2 separate regions of the Homo sapiens genome follow, and region 1 is reported to be linked to region 2. Evidence: microRNA targets listed by miRTarBase, many of them from high-throughput screens and not tested one by one. Region 2 holds a microRNA gene; the other region holds the end of a gene's coding sequence.

The links. Region 2 holds the annotated microRNA hsa-miR-4327 (GGCUUGCAUGGGGGACUGG, at 4,853-4,871, shown strand). A microRNA usually pairs through its seed, bases 2 to 8, with sites in the 3' UTR of a target mRNA and lowers its output. Matches are read on the target gene's strand: a 7mer-m8 pairs with bases 2 to 8, a 7mer-A1 pairs with bases 2 to 7 and ends in A, and an 8mer does both.
Region 1: the mRNA of ELL is a reported target of hsa-miR-4327. Seed matches in the 3' UTR shown: 7mer-m8 at 6,298-6,304 and 7mer-A1 at 5,847-5,853.

Annotation. Positions count from the first base shown.
Region 1 is chr19:18,438,290-18,445,329 of GRCh38, forward strand. It overlaps ELL (elongation factor for RNA polymerase II), which reads right to left. Exons shown (of 12, transcript NM_006532.4): 11 at 6,935-6,979; 12 at 4,374-6,579. The coding sequence ends at 6,463. Among named protein-coding and RNA genes, the nearest start is that of ISYNA1, 3.7 kb to the left of the region's middle. RefSeq lists enhancers at 1-56, 57-1,043, 2,389-2,508, 2,669-2,728 and a silencer at 3,522-3,571.
Region 2 is chr21:30,372,959-30,380,220 of GRCh38, reverse strand. MIR4327 (microRNA 4327) reads left to right here and starts at 4,843; the gene lies at 4,843-4,927.

The DNA.
Region 1 (7,040 bases), not on the chromosome of region 2:
CCTGGCGGAAGTGGCCAGGCGTCCACGAGCGCGGCGCGTATAGGTTCACCTCGCTCGCTCCGCAGCCCCCAGGGGCTCATGGCTGCCTATCCCCCCTTTACAAGAGGACAATGAGGCTACACATGAGCCCAGCCACAAGCCAGGGGGTGGAGCTGGGCAGGGAAGCTGGGCCTCCGGGGGGGTAGGTAGGGGGTCTGGGTCAGAGACACTGCAGGGGAAACAGGCAGAGGACCAGAACTCCAAAGCCAGAATCTCCTCGGAGCCACACTGCCACCTACTCCCCCTTCGTGGGCAGCAGCACCTACCAGGCAGTCCCATCCCCTGGCTCCCCATGTCCGCCCCCATCCATCTCGGGGGACAAAGTCACTCTGTCCCCACGGGGCTCACAAGGATGGGGCCTGTTTGGCCTGTTTCCCCACCTGCAGCAGGAGGGCTTGGCAGGAGTGGGCCGGAGCGGGAGGCTGTTCGCTGGAAAGGGGAGGGGACGCACAGGCGGGCAGGGCCGAGGCAGGGGAGGAATGAGGCCTGCACTGCAGGGCGCCCCCCTCATGCGCGCTGATAAGGGAGCGTGGGAACCCAGCGGGCAGGCCGGGGCAGCTCCCCCAGGAACTTTCCAAAACAAGCGCCTGGAGGCCGGAAAGTTTCCACCACTGGAGCTGGCCCAAAAGGTGGATAGTTGGGAACGTTTGCAAGAGACAGGGCCTGACCTTGGAGGATGAGGGCTTAAGACTCTGGGTCCAGGCCTCACCCTGAAGGGGCCCCAGTCTGAGGGAGTTGGAAGTGGACTGGGACACCCCCGCCCCAGTGGGTGGGAACTCACAGGCAGGGCCCCTGCAAGACAGGCTCCCCAGATGAGGGGGCTGCTGGCAAGGGTTTTGAGACATGAAGAGGAGTTCACTGAAAGAAAACTACAGGCCAAGCCACCTGAGCCACCCAGACAGGGCAGATGAAAAATTGGCTACGTGGGAGGCAGTTTGGGGTCTTGGGCAGACCCTGAGGGCTGGGGATAGGGAGTGTGAAAGAGTATTTGGTGTTTGTTCCTGGTTCTTGGTTAGACATTGAGCTCAATCACCAGTGGCCAACGATTTAATCAATCACATATATGCAAATGAGACAGTTGGGGCTCAGAACACAGAAACTCCCCTCAGCCTCAAGTTATGGGGCCTTGGCCTGCCCCGCGCTTTGAGCAGGGCATCGGAAAGCTCAGAATCGAGTCTCTCCGACCTTCTCCTGCCCTCCTGCCTCTAGCCCCTTTCTCCCCTGGAAACCATAGAAACCAGAATTCCTCTTCCCCAAGGCAGGTCAGAGACACTGGAGCCCTTCTCCCCTTAAAACAAAAAAAAAGCCACAAAGCCGGCAAAGGTCACTCTCTGCCTGCTCCCTTGAAGACCCTCATTCCGGGAGGGTCCTGCCCATACCCTGGAGGAAGGAATGCTACCCAGAGTCTAGGAAGTCTGGGCAGGCTGGCCCCCCTCCCCCACCCAGTCTGCTCCCTTTAAGATCTACAGTGTTTCAACACATTGATACACATTCTTCATAGAACCTAAGCCGAAAAATAGGCAGTCAGCCAGGCACGGTGGCTCATGCCTGTAATCCTAGCACTTTGGGAGGTCAAAGCGGGCGCATCGCTTGAGCCCAGGAGTTTGAGACCAGCCTGGGCAACACGGGGAAACCCCGTCTCAATACAAACAAACAAACAAAAAATAGCCGGGCTTGGTGGCGCACACCTGTAGTCCAGCTGCGTGGGAGGCTGAGGTGGGAGGATCACCTAAGCTCAGGAGGTGTAGGCTGCAGTGAGCCATGATTGTACCACTGCACTCCAGCCTGGGCAACAGAGTAATACCCTGTCTCAAAAAAAAAATGGGGTTTAGGGGAAAATATGGAGGGGCTGGGAGGGTGGCATGCCTGGAAAAGGCATGGAAGCTTCACGGCCCGCCCATACCTTGCCCTGTGCGCCTCCTCCATTTGGCTGTGAGCATTTTCCGGAGTTCTGTGAGCTGTTCCAGCAATTATCAAACCTGAAGTGGGGTCATGGGAACTCGCAATTTATTAGCCTGCTTGCCAGAAGTATAGGTGGCATCTGACACAGGTGCAGCCCTGTGGGACTGACCCCCATAACTTGTGGAGTCCGATACCATCTCTGGGAATGGAACTGTTGGACATCCTGTAGGTACTGGAGGATCAGAGAATCGGGGAGTTTGTGCCTCGAGGCGACACGTGATTCAGGAACCTGTGTAGTTGAGAGACATGAGGAAGGTCCCAAGACCCAGCCCCGGGGAGCCTGTGTTCACAGGGCCACCTGTAGAGGGTGCCGGAGGATGGGAGCTGGCACAGGGCAGCTGGAGGGAATCGGCATAGAGGCTGGGCTGCTTCCACTCCCAGCAGTTGACAAGGCCGAAGGAGGGGGTTTGGCCCCTACAGTCAGGCCTGGGTGTGCTGAAGTCGGTGGTGAGATGCACTGTTATTCCCCAGCAAAGTGTGGGCTCCCTGAAGGCAGGGATGAGGCTGAGTCACTGCTGTGTTGCAGAGCCCAGGTGGAGCTTGGTACAGGAGGGGGCTGCAGGAACAGGGGTGCCCGTTGAAAGAGGACAATTGGGGCCCCTGGCAGGTGGCAGGAGAGGGTTTAACAGCTCTGAGCCCCTCTCTACCAGGGTGCCCAGGTCATGAGGGTGGGAAGGCTCTCCTGAATATCCGGGGCACTAGACTGATGGCATCCATGGCTCAGGAAGGTCAGGGGACTGACTGTGGCCTCTGCAGGCTGCGGGGGTGATGGCCAGAGTATTGCTGGGCAGTTGGCTTAGGGCTGGCGTTGGAGGGCCGGGGGAGGCAGGACCGTGAGCTGCAGGAGGTTGGTGTTGGCCCTGGGATGTTGGGACAGAGATGTTATCCTGGGAGAACAGCGTGGCCAGGCTATGCTGGGAGCAGGGTACACGCTGCCCCACTGGGCTGCATGACTTCCCCTCCCGCGCCCCTCAGATTCCTGGGTGGCCTTAGAACTTGGGCCAAGGCCACGGACGGGCAGGGAGGCCAGGCCCCCCCCACAGCTGCAGGCCCAGGACCTTTGCCCACGGTCCTATTCTTCGGTGTTATCGCTTACTAAATGCACCCCTTCTTGTCCTTGGCTGGCAGGTTGAGTGTTATGTTCTCCATGGCCCCTGGCTCGTTCCACCTGCACCACCGCCGCTCCCGTCAGGCCTTTTCCCCATCCCCACTAGTGGCACAGGGGATGCCCCTGCCCCAGTGTGGGAAGAACAGGTAATATTACCGTTACCTGCTGCTGCTTTCATCAGAGGGAGACAGTCACAGCTGGTTTCCCCCACCCCCAGCCCCACTCCTGTAGCCTTTGGTGCCACAGGGGGCCAAGGAATCCCAATGCTGGGTTCAGCCCACCCTATCCACACCAGAGGGTACTGCTGTGCTCACACACCTGCTATGGCTCCCTATCCCTCCGCCCTGACCCAGCCTGCCCCCACCCCCGCGCTCCCCGTCACCTACAGGGCCCTCTGATTTGGTCCTTTCTCAGGCAACGGCTCAGGTAGGCTGCAAACTCTGCCTTCTTATCTGGTCCCAGCCAGAGCCCCTGAACAACCCTTTCTCATCATTATGGCGGCCCCAGGTCACATCACCTCCTGATGCCAGCCCACCCCCAACCACAGGACAGGGACAGCCACCACAGAAACCAGGCTGTGACACACCCACACACTACACACACACCCACACCCCAACACACACCACACACCCAACACACACACCCCCAACACACACCACACCCTCACACCACACACACACCTACACACCCCAACACACACCACACACCACCCAACACACACCACACCCTCACACCCCAACACACACCACACATCCGGTCAACACACACCAACACACACCACACCCACACCAACACACCCCAACACACACCACACCCACACACCCCAACACACACCCACCCTCAACACATCCCCAACACACCACACACACCCCACACCACACACCCCAACACACACCACACCCTCATACCACACACCCAGATACACCACATCCACACACCACACCCCAACACACACCCACATCCCAACACATACCACATCCCAACAAACACCACATCCTCACCACACACATCCCCAACACACACCACACACCCCACACCCCAACACACACCACACACAACACACCCACACATACAACACACACACCCTAACACATCACACACACTACACACCCACACACAACATCCAACACACACCGACACAGATATACTACACACCCACACACCCCAACACACACCACACACACATACACACCATACACCACACACACAGATACACCAACACCCACACACCACACACACCAGCCAGGCAGCCTGGGCTGCCAGGTTCAGTTCAGTGAAATTTATTGGAGAATGAAAAAAGTCAGCATTCACCTGTTTAGTGTACAAAAAGGACACTAGATCTTTTAAGAAAATATCAGGAAACTGAAGACGCAGATAGATGCCTTTCAATTGTAACATTTTGGCAAAAGTGGAAAGTTCTTGTAAACACCAACCCCATGGCTCAAAATAGTTTTTCTCCACAGTACAACATTAAAAGAAAAAAAAATAGTATCAATAAGTTAGACCATATTTAATCAGCTAGAACTTTGTCCACCAACCCCCAAAACACAAAACTTTTCTTAGCTTCATAATTCCTTAAAAGGAGAACAAATAAACAACAAAAACAACAACAACAACAAAAAGGCAAATTCAACTGACAGCCCCTTGGACTGGTTCCCAGGGCAGAGGGGCGGGCAGTCCCGGGCTGGGACCTCCTGAAATCATCCCACCTCACCGGTGTCTGCAGGGCTGCCTGCGGGCGACACAGCAAGGTCCAGCTGACTCTGGAGGCCTCCTGGAGCCTGCTCGGCCCTTCCCCGGCCCGGCCCGGCCCAAAGAGAAAAACAACAACAGCTATTGAAACATGAAGGATCAGTTTCCTCGGAGCTCTGGGAACCCGGGGGTCCCAAAGGAGAGAGACTCTCGGGCAGGGGTGGGATACACTGTGGGCCCTCCACAGTCAGCTCTTTGGAAGCTGTCAGGAGGCACCCCTCCACCCCCCAGTTTAGAAAAATAGACATCTGTATTTTTGCATTTCTGTTCTCCCTGCCTGACTGCTGATGGCAGCAGTGACCCCCATGTGATCCCTGGGCCCTGAGTCACAGCCGCCATCCACCCCCCACCACCTTTCCAAGTCATGGCTTCATTCAGCCCTAAATGGGAACACACGCCTCAGACCCCACCATGCCCTGGGGGGTCCCCACATACGCACACTCACACACCCACACTTGCGTGGCCCCCCGATGCTTTGGGGGACACTAGACTAGGCACAGCAACAGAGCAGCAATTGGGGTGTCTGCAGAGCCTGCACCCCCAGAGCAGGCAGACCCATCCTCCTGGCTCCCCAGCTCTGCCCATGGGTCCCTGGGGCCTCCCTGACCCCATGGCGCCCAGCCCTCCATCAGCCCCTCCCTGAGTGCAAACCTTGGCGGTGGCTCTGCTAAGACGACCCCAGGACCCACAAGTGGACAGAGGGACGGAGGGAGGCCAGCAGCATCGAGACCACAAGGTCTCAACAGTGTGGAATGAGCAGCAGCAGCAACAAATGGGAAACCGAGGACATCGCAAAGAAAAGTCTGACGCCGCTGCGGCCGAGTCTCAACTTGGAGCACAGAAACACAGTGGCCCCCGACAGCTGAGGGCCTGAAATAGCAGGGCAGGCCTGGGGGCGCTGAAAGCCCTCTGCCCCCTTGGCTCTGAGCAGCTGTCTGGGGGCACCAGCTGGAGTTCTCAAAATAGCCACCTGGGCCACCCTGTTTGCTTGCTGGAGCAGAGACCCTGCCCAAGGAGGAGAGGCTGGGGAAAGGGGTGCCTAAACGTAGAGCCAGAGACCAGCAGAGGCCACCTGCCCATTCCCCACGCCCTCAGAACGCAGCTGCACCTTTCGACGACCTCTGTAATACTGCAGGCAGGACCCAGGGCAGCGGCTAGACCCTGGGTGTCCGAGGAGAGGGAGGCACAGGTTTAGAAAAAAGATTTTGCTTCTCTTTTGTACAAAAATAGACTCAAGTCTCATTAGCAGTAGCTAAAAGTGGCTGTCTTTGTATAAAACTAGAAAAGGCAGGCGCGCCACCCCAAGGGCCTAGGAGTCTTCTGGCGAGACAGGAGGCTGAACCCCGGAGGCTGCAGCCAGGGAGGAGGCAGTGGGCTTCCTGGGGAGCCCATCATAAGCAGGGACTGCTCAGGAAGCGCAGGGAGGGCCGAGGTGGGCTTGCAGCCACCCGCCAGGGCCAGACGTCTGCAGGGGCTGCCCTGAAAGCCGGCGGTGCTGGCTCAGATGAGCATCTTCCTCGGGTTTATTTTTTTAAATAAATCCTCTCTCACCGCCTTTTGCTCCCCCGACCCTCCCAGATCCCCGCCATCGGGGAGGGCGGCTAGGGCCAAGCCTGCAGCTGCCGCTGGTCGTACTCGGCGATGAGCCTCTTGATGTGGGCCAGCTTGCTGTGCAGGTACTCGCAGCGGTGCTTCTCCTGGCTGTAGTTGGTGTTGGTCTGTGGGACAGCACAGTCATGCTCAGGACAGAGCCGCCCTGGGTGCTGCTCCCCGCTGTAAGCAGGCCAGTGTCCCCCCCAAACCAAAAACCTGGGCTTGGTGCCCAGCAAGGAGGGTTGTGGTCCAAGGGCAGAGTGGGAGTTGGTCCCCCGCACCTCCACAGCTTGTGTGGCTGGGCCAGGATGCCACAGCTGAAGACTTAGCTGGGGGTGGTGGGGCAACTTTGGCCTCAGACTCAAAGGCTCTTCCCCCACACCTTGGAAGTAGCGGGCAGGGAGGCTGCCCCGGGCCCACCCTCCTCCCTCCAGCTCCCATGGCTCACTTGGAGCCCACCCCAACACAAGAGACACTCACCTTTTTGATTTTTCGATATTCCTGCAAAATCTGCCCTCGAGTAGTCTAGAAGAAAAACAAAATTTTGAGAAAACAGAATGTGTCCCCGCCTACAGGAAACCCAAAT
Region 2 (7,262 bases):
ATGAGAAGTTCCTCACTATCACAAGATCAGCATGGTAGAAACCACCCCCCATGATCCAATCACCCCCCACCAGGCCCCTTCCTCAACATGTGGGGATTATAATTCAAGATGAGATTTAGGTGGGGCCACAGGGCCAAACCATATCATTCTGCCCTTGGCACCTCCCAAATCTCATGTCCTTCTCACATTTCAAAACCAATCATGCCTTCCTAACAGTCACACAAAGTCTTAACTTATTCCAGAATTAACCCCAAAGTCCAAGTTCAAAGTCTCATCTGAGATAAGGCAAGTCCTTTTCTGCCTATGAGCCTGTAAATCAAAAACAAGTTAGTTACTTCCAAGATACAATGGGGGTACAGGCATTGGGTAAATGTTCACATTCCAAGAGGGAGAAATTGGCCAGAACAAAAAGGATACAGGCCCCATGTAGCACAGCCATTAAATATTAAAGCTCCAAAATAATTTCCTTTGAATTCATGTCCCACATCCAGGACACGCTGATGCAAGGGGTGGGCTCCTAATGCCTTGGGCAGCTTCTCTCCTGTGGCTCTGCAGGTTATAGTCCTCATGGCTACTTTCACAGGCTGGCATTGAGTGTCTGTGGCTTTTCCACACACACAATGCAAGCTGTTGGTGGATCTACATTTCTGGGGTCTGGAGGATGGTGGCCTTCTCATGGCTCCACCAGACAGTGCCCCAGTGGGGACTCTGTGTGGGAGCTCACACCCCACAGTTCCCTTCTGCACTGCCCTAGCAGAGGTTCTCCATGAGGGCTCTGCCCCTGCAGCAGACTATTGTCTGGACTTCCAAGCATTTACATATATCCTCTGAAATTTAGACAGAGGTTCCCAAACCTCAACTCTTGTTTTCTGCACATCTGCAGGCCCAATACCACTTGCAAGCCACCAATGCTTGGGACTTGCACCCTCTGAAGCAACAGCTGTAGCTATACCCTGGCCCCTATCAGCCATGGCTGGAGCTGGAGCTTCTGGGACACAAGGCATCAAGTCCTGAAGCTGCACAGAGCAGCCAAGCCCTGATCCTAATGTATGAAGCCATTTTTCCCTCCCAGGCCTCCAGGCCGGTGATGACAATGGCTCCTGTAAATGTCTCTGACATGCCCCTGAGACATTTTCCCCATTGTCTTGGCTATTGACATTCAGCTCCTCGTTGCTTATGCAAATTTCTGCAGCCAGCTTGAATTCCTCTGCAGAAAATGGGTATTCCTTTTCTATCACATGGTCAGGCTGCAAATTTTCCAAACTTTTATGCTCTGCTTCCTTTTTAAAATAAGTTCCAATTTCAAAGCATCTCTTTGTGAACACACATAACTGAATGCTTTCAGAATAAGCCAGGTCACATGTTGAATGTTCTGCTGCTTAGCAATTTCTTCCACCGGATACCTTAAATCATCTCTCTCAAGTTCAAAGTTTCACAGGTCTCTAAAGCAGGGGAAAAATGCCACTAGTTTCTTTGCTAAAGCATAGCAAGAGTGACTTTGCTCCAGTTCCCTATAAGTTCCTCATCTCCATCTGAGACCACCTCAGCATGGACTTCGTTGTTCATATCACTATCAGCATTTTGGTCAAAACCATTCAACAAGTCTCTAGGAAGTTCCAAACTTTCCCACATCTTCCCGTCTTCTTCTAAGCCCTCCAAACTGTTCCAACCTCCTCCTGTTACCAGTTCCAATGTCGCTTCCACATTTTCAGTTTATCTTTATAGCAGTACCCAACTCTGCTGGTACCAATTCTCTGTATTAGTCTGTTATCACACTGCTATGAAGATACTACCTAGGACTGGGTAATTTATAAAGAAAAATGGTTTAATTGACTCATAGTTCCTCATGGTTGGAGAGGCACCAGGAAATTTACATCATGGTGGAAGGTGAAGGGGAAGCAAGGCACATGTTACATGGTGGCAGGAGAGAAAGAGAGTATACACAGGCAGAAACTGGGACTTTTAAAACCATCAGATCTCATGAGAAATCCCTCACTATCATCAGAACAGCATGGCGGAAACCGTCCTCATGATCCAATCACCTCCCACCAGGTCCCTTCCTTGACATGTGGGGATTATAATTAGAGATGAGATTTGAATGGGCACACAGAGCCAAACCATATTACATATGTCCACAAAATTATCTGTATGTGAATGTTTATAGCAGTTTTATCCACAGTAACTCCAGACTCAAAATCATCTAAATGTCCATTTTCTAGTGTATAGCGTACATACAATGAAATACCACTTGGCAATAAAAGGGAATAAACTACTGGAATATGCAACAACATGGATGAATTTCAAAAGCATTATGCTCTGTGAAGGAAGTTAAACACAGAAGGCAACGTAATGTGTAATTCCTTTTATCATGCAGTTCAAAAAATAAGACTATAGGAACAGAAATTTAGATATTGGGGAAGCAGATTGATCCAAAGGAGCACAGGAGAATTTCTAGAAATAATGGAAATACTCTATCTCAATCAATTGATGATTACATAACTATATATGTTTGTCAAAACTCATTGAACTGGGAAGCCAAGGCAGGAAGATTGCATGAGGCCAGGAATTCAAGACTAAACTGGACAACACAGTGAGAATCTGCCTCTACAAAAAAAAAAGAAAAAAAAATAGCTAGGGGTTGTGGTATGCACTTATAGTCCTAACCACTCAGGAGGCTGAGGCAGGAGAATGACTTGAGCTCAGCAGTTGGAGGCTACAGTGAGCTATGATCACACTACTGCACTCCAGCCTGGGCAACAGAGCAAGCCCTTGCCCCCTCCACCAAAAAAAGAACAGAAAGGAAAAAACCCATTGAACTGTACTCCTAAAAATGGTGCATTTCATTTTATGGGAACTGTGTATCCACAGATCTGACTTTACAAAAGAGTCAAACAACTGACCAGAGGAATATATTAGCAACATATGAAAGACAAAGGCATACAAAAAGAATGCACAAATTCTCTAAAAATACATTTAAAAGAACAAATGACTCCATAGAATAATGGCTAAAAGATAACAAAATATGAGAAACTAAAACAGGTCTGAGTTACACAGCTAAGTGATGGAGCTGGGATTCAAACTCTGCCAGCCTGAATCCAAAAGCCTTGATCGTAACTACCATGCTAGAATTGAAATTATGTATGTCCAGCAATTGCATCTAAATATACATGTTCCAGAAGCCCTAGACAGTAGATGCAAGGGCCTATATAGAAGTATATTTCTTGCCACATGGTTTGTGATAGTAAAAAATCAAGAATGGTAGAGCGATATATCAATAAAATATTTTTATACAGTAGAATTCTATAAATTTGTAACAAGGAATAAACTAGATGTGTGTATCATAGCAACATGGTTATTTGCATAAAGTCTGACAATGGTGTCAGTATTGCAGTTCAAATCTCATCTCTGCTACTAACTACATGGGTAGCTTTGGCAAGTAACTCAATCTGTTTGTGTCTCAGCTTCCTCAGCTATAAAACAAGAATAAAAGTGGTGTGTACCATGTAGAATTATTATGAGGATTGAGTTAATATTTGTAATACAGTGCTGAGAACAGTGCCTGACATTTAAAAGTTCTACTGTAGTGATAATAAATGCACAAATATATAAATATCAACTTGGATATGTTTTAGATATTTTTATTTAAATAAATTTAATATAAAAAGAAAGCTACAGATACATATATGTATCCAATAAGATGGCATTTTTGTAACTTAAAACAACAATAAATGGTATAAACCGATAAATATATGTATAGACAATTTCCTGGAATGCTATGCAAAAACGAATGCATTATTGTGATGCCTTTGGAAAGATATGAAAAAGAATCAGACTGAGAGACTGGCCCACAAGGGGTCTCTCTCTGTAAGATAGCGAATAGAATGGTGGTTACCATAGGCTTGCAAGGGTAGTGGAAAGAAAGGACAGAGAGGTGTTGGTTAATGGGTGCAAAAATATAGTTAGATAGGAGGAATAAGATCTAGTGTTCAGTAACACAGTACAGCAACTGTGGTTAACAATAATGTATTGCATATTTCAAAATAACTAGAAAAGTAGATTTGGAATGTTCTCAACACAAAAAAAATGATAAATGTTTAAGGTGATGGATATGCCAGTTACCCAGATTTGATCATTACACATCGTGTGCCTGTATCAAAATATCACATGTACCCCATTAATATGCGCAACATTATGTATCCATAAACATTTAAAATAAAAAAGAGAAAGATGAACGCAAATCTGACAACGTGGTAACAATTGTGAGTTTAGGCATCCAGAAAATGACTCTAGAATTTACTTTAATTTTCTATTTGTTTTCAGTAAATGCAAGGGTAAGGTCTCAGAAGAGATAAGAAGAACCGAGAGGTGTGTAAGCAGGCTGTTTATAAATCTTTTTGTTTGTTTGTTTGTTTGAGACGGAATCTCACTCTGTCGCCCAGGCTGGAGTGCAGTGGCATGACCTTGGCTCACTGCAACCTCTGCCTTCCAGTTTCAAGCGATTCTCCTGCCTCAGCCTCTCCAGTAGCTGGGATTACAGATGTCTGCCACCACGCCTGGCTAATTTTTGTATTTTTAGTAGAGACGGGATTTCGCCATGTTTGAAAGGCTGGTCTCAAACTCCTGACCTCGTGATCCACCTGCCTCGGCCTCCCAAAGTGCTGGGATTACAGGCGTGAGCCACTGCGCCCAGCCTGGCCTTTTTATTTCAAACGAAAGTCATGGATGATGAAGACATAAAATGGATGAATTTGAAGCAGGAAGAGCTGTAGTGAAGTTAGAGGAGGTGCCAGGGCCTGGAAAAGTCTCAAACAATGAGGCCGGATGACCTCCGAGAAAGCCACAGGCCTGGGTAGGCTTGCATGGGGGACTGGGAAGAGACCATGAACAGGTTAGTCCAGGGAGTTCTCATCAAGCCTTTACTCAGTAGTGGGTTCTTCATAGTTAGCATTAATGTTTAATAGATACATTTCCCCTTGGGTGAGAATTTTAAAAATAAAATCTAGTGTAAAGCAGCTGTTATGAAGACTCTTTAGTGACCAGACAATAAAAGCCTCTCCTAGGTCTAGAGAAGGCAGAAAATTAAAAAGTGAACAGAAAGTAAAAAGGTGGCCGGACGCGGTGGCTCACGCCTGTAATCCCAGCACTTTGGGAGGCCGAGGCGGGTGGATCATGAGGTCAGGAGATCAAGACCATCCTGGCTAACATGGGGAAACCCCGTCTCTACTAAAAATACAAAAAATTAGCCAGGCGTGGTGGCGGGCACCTGTAGTCCCAGCTACTCGGGAGGCTGAGGCAAGAGAATGGTGTGAACCCGGGAGGCAGAGCTTGCAGTGAGCCAAGATTGCACCACTGTACTCCAGCCTGGGTGACAGAGCCAGACTCCGTCTCGGAAAAAAAAAAAAAAAAAAGAAAGTAAAAAAGGTATAGGGCAGTATATATGGATTTTTACTATTTCTACTACTGCCTAATATTTGGTTAATTTGAAAGCTTTTGAAGAATCTCTGGAAACATTGCAATAGAAGATTGTCAGTTTAAAGCTTCTGCTACATTACTATGTTAACTTGGAAAAACAATCACTTTTCAAGTAATTCAGATCATAGGCTACTTGTGGCTACTGTGTACTGTAATGATAGTTTTATTCTCTGTAGTGTTGTTATGCCTAAATTTCTAAAGAGAAAAGAGAAAGAAGAAAGAAAGAAAGAGAAAAGAAAGAAAGAAATAGAAAGAAAGAGAAACAGAGAAAGAGAGAGAGGGAGAAAGGGAGGGAAGGAGGCAGAGAGAGAGGGAGGGAGGGAAAGAAAAGAAAGAAAAAGAAAAGGAAAGAGAGGCAGAGAAAGAAAAGAAAGAAAAAGAAAAAGAAAGAGGGAGGGAGGGAAGGAAGGAAGGAGAGAGAGAGAAAAGATTTCAATATCACGTTTTCCCTGACATATCAAGATAGTGAATTTTTCTTTCTATACTAATACTTTGCCTGTGTATGTAGAGTACGTAGAGTATTTTATTAGTTCCAGAATCCACTTTTGAACTGTTAAGGCTACTCTAGTTTTGTTCTGCTTTTTCTGCCTTTCAGATGGACACATTTATTAGCATTTGGGAGTTGTTCATTAGCATTTGTACAAAGTGCACAAATAACTCCTAATAAAAAGTGTTAACCCAATTAGGAATGGGTGGAGGGACTGTTAATTGGAACTGACTTACTCCCAAGTTATTTTAGTGTTTATTCCCAGACATAGGGAGCTGGTCTAGAAAGGCAAGAACTTTTGGATATTAGTAAGTTTTTTGTTTTCTTTTTTTTGAGCAGAATCAACCTGTAGTAAGAAAAGAAAAATATTTCTCATTTTAAAGGTGTTAAAAGCTGCCATTATAAGGAATCCCATGTGTTGGGGGTGGTGCATACTTTTTGGTGAATTTAATAGGTGTCCATTCATAAAGCACAGCTTATTTTACTTCAGTGAATCAGAGTGATGGTTTAAGTATTGCACAAGGGCACTTCATGTGATGCATGCCACACTTTGGATTCTGCATGGGAGAGATAATCATAAAACAAAGTAACTAAGTGCTCTGAAACAGTGTGCTTTGGAATGAAGGAAGTTAATTTTCAGGTAGTTAAGAGGCTCTCTTTTCGATAACCATTGTGAATGCCATTTCCCTTAGTTAAACCAAATAAAATGTCAAATTCAAAAGAAGAAGAATAGACACAGATAAGAAGCCTCTTCCCCCCATTAATCTAAACATGGATTACCAATATTCTTTCTCTTTCTTGGGCTAGGAAGTGAAATATACTTCAAATGTATGAAGATCAGTAAGGCATAGAATTCCCCAGTTGAACACTATTCAGTGTGAATATTGTTAGGAAAAGTAAATAAGGCTTTGTTAGGCTTTTATATCTTAGTATAAATAAGCTTAATAGTTTCTTTTCTGAGACAAGTTAAAGTTGAATTTACTTTTATATTTGCAAGGTATTTGCAACTTGACTCTGAATAAGAAAACCATAATTAAAGCTTCAATTTTGCTTCTATCTTACTGAGAAATTAGGGGAAAGTTAAAGCTCTCTGAGAGGTAATTTTTCCATGTATGGGTTGAACAGGGGATGTTTAAAGACCCATATAACTCTAATACTTCAAGTTAAAAGCTTCAGAAAAATGTTAACAATTCCTCAAAGTTTAAGTATAAATTAATAATTGCAGCTAAGAATCTGTCCTTTTATCCAGAAAAAAAAATTGAAACATAAAACAAAATAAAATTTATGAGTTGATTTAGAGCAT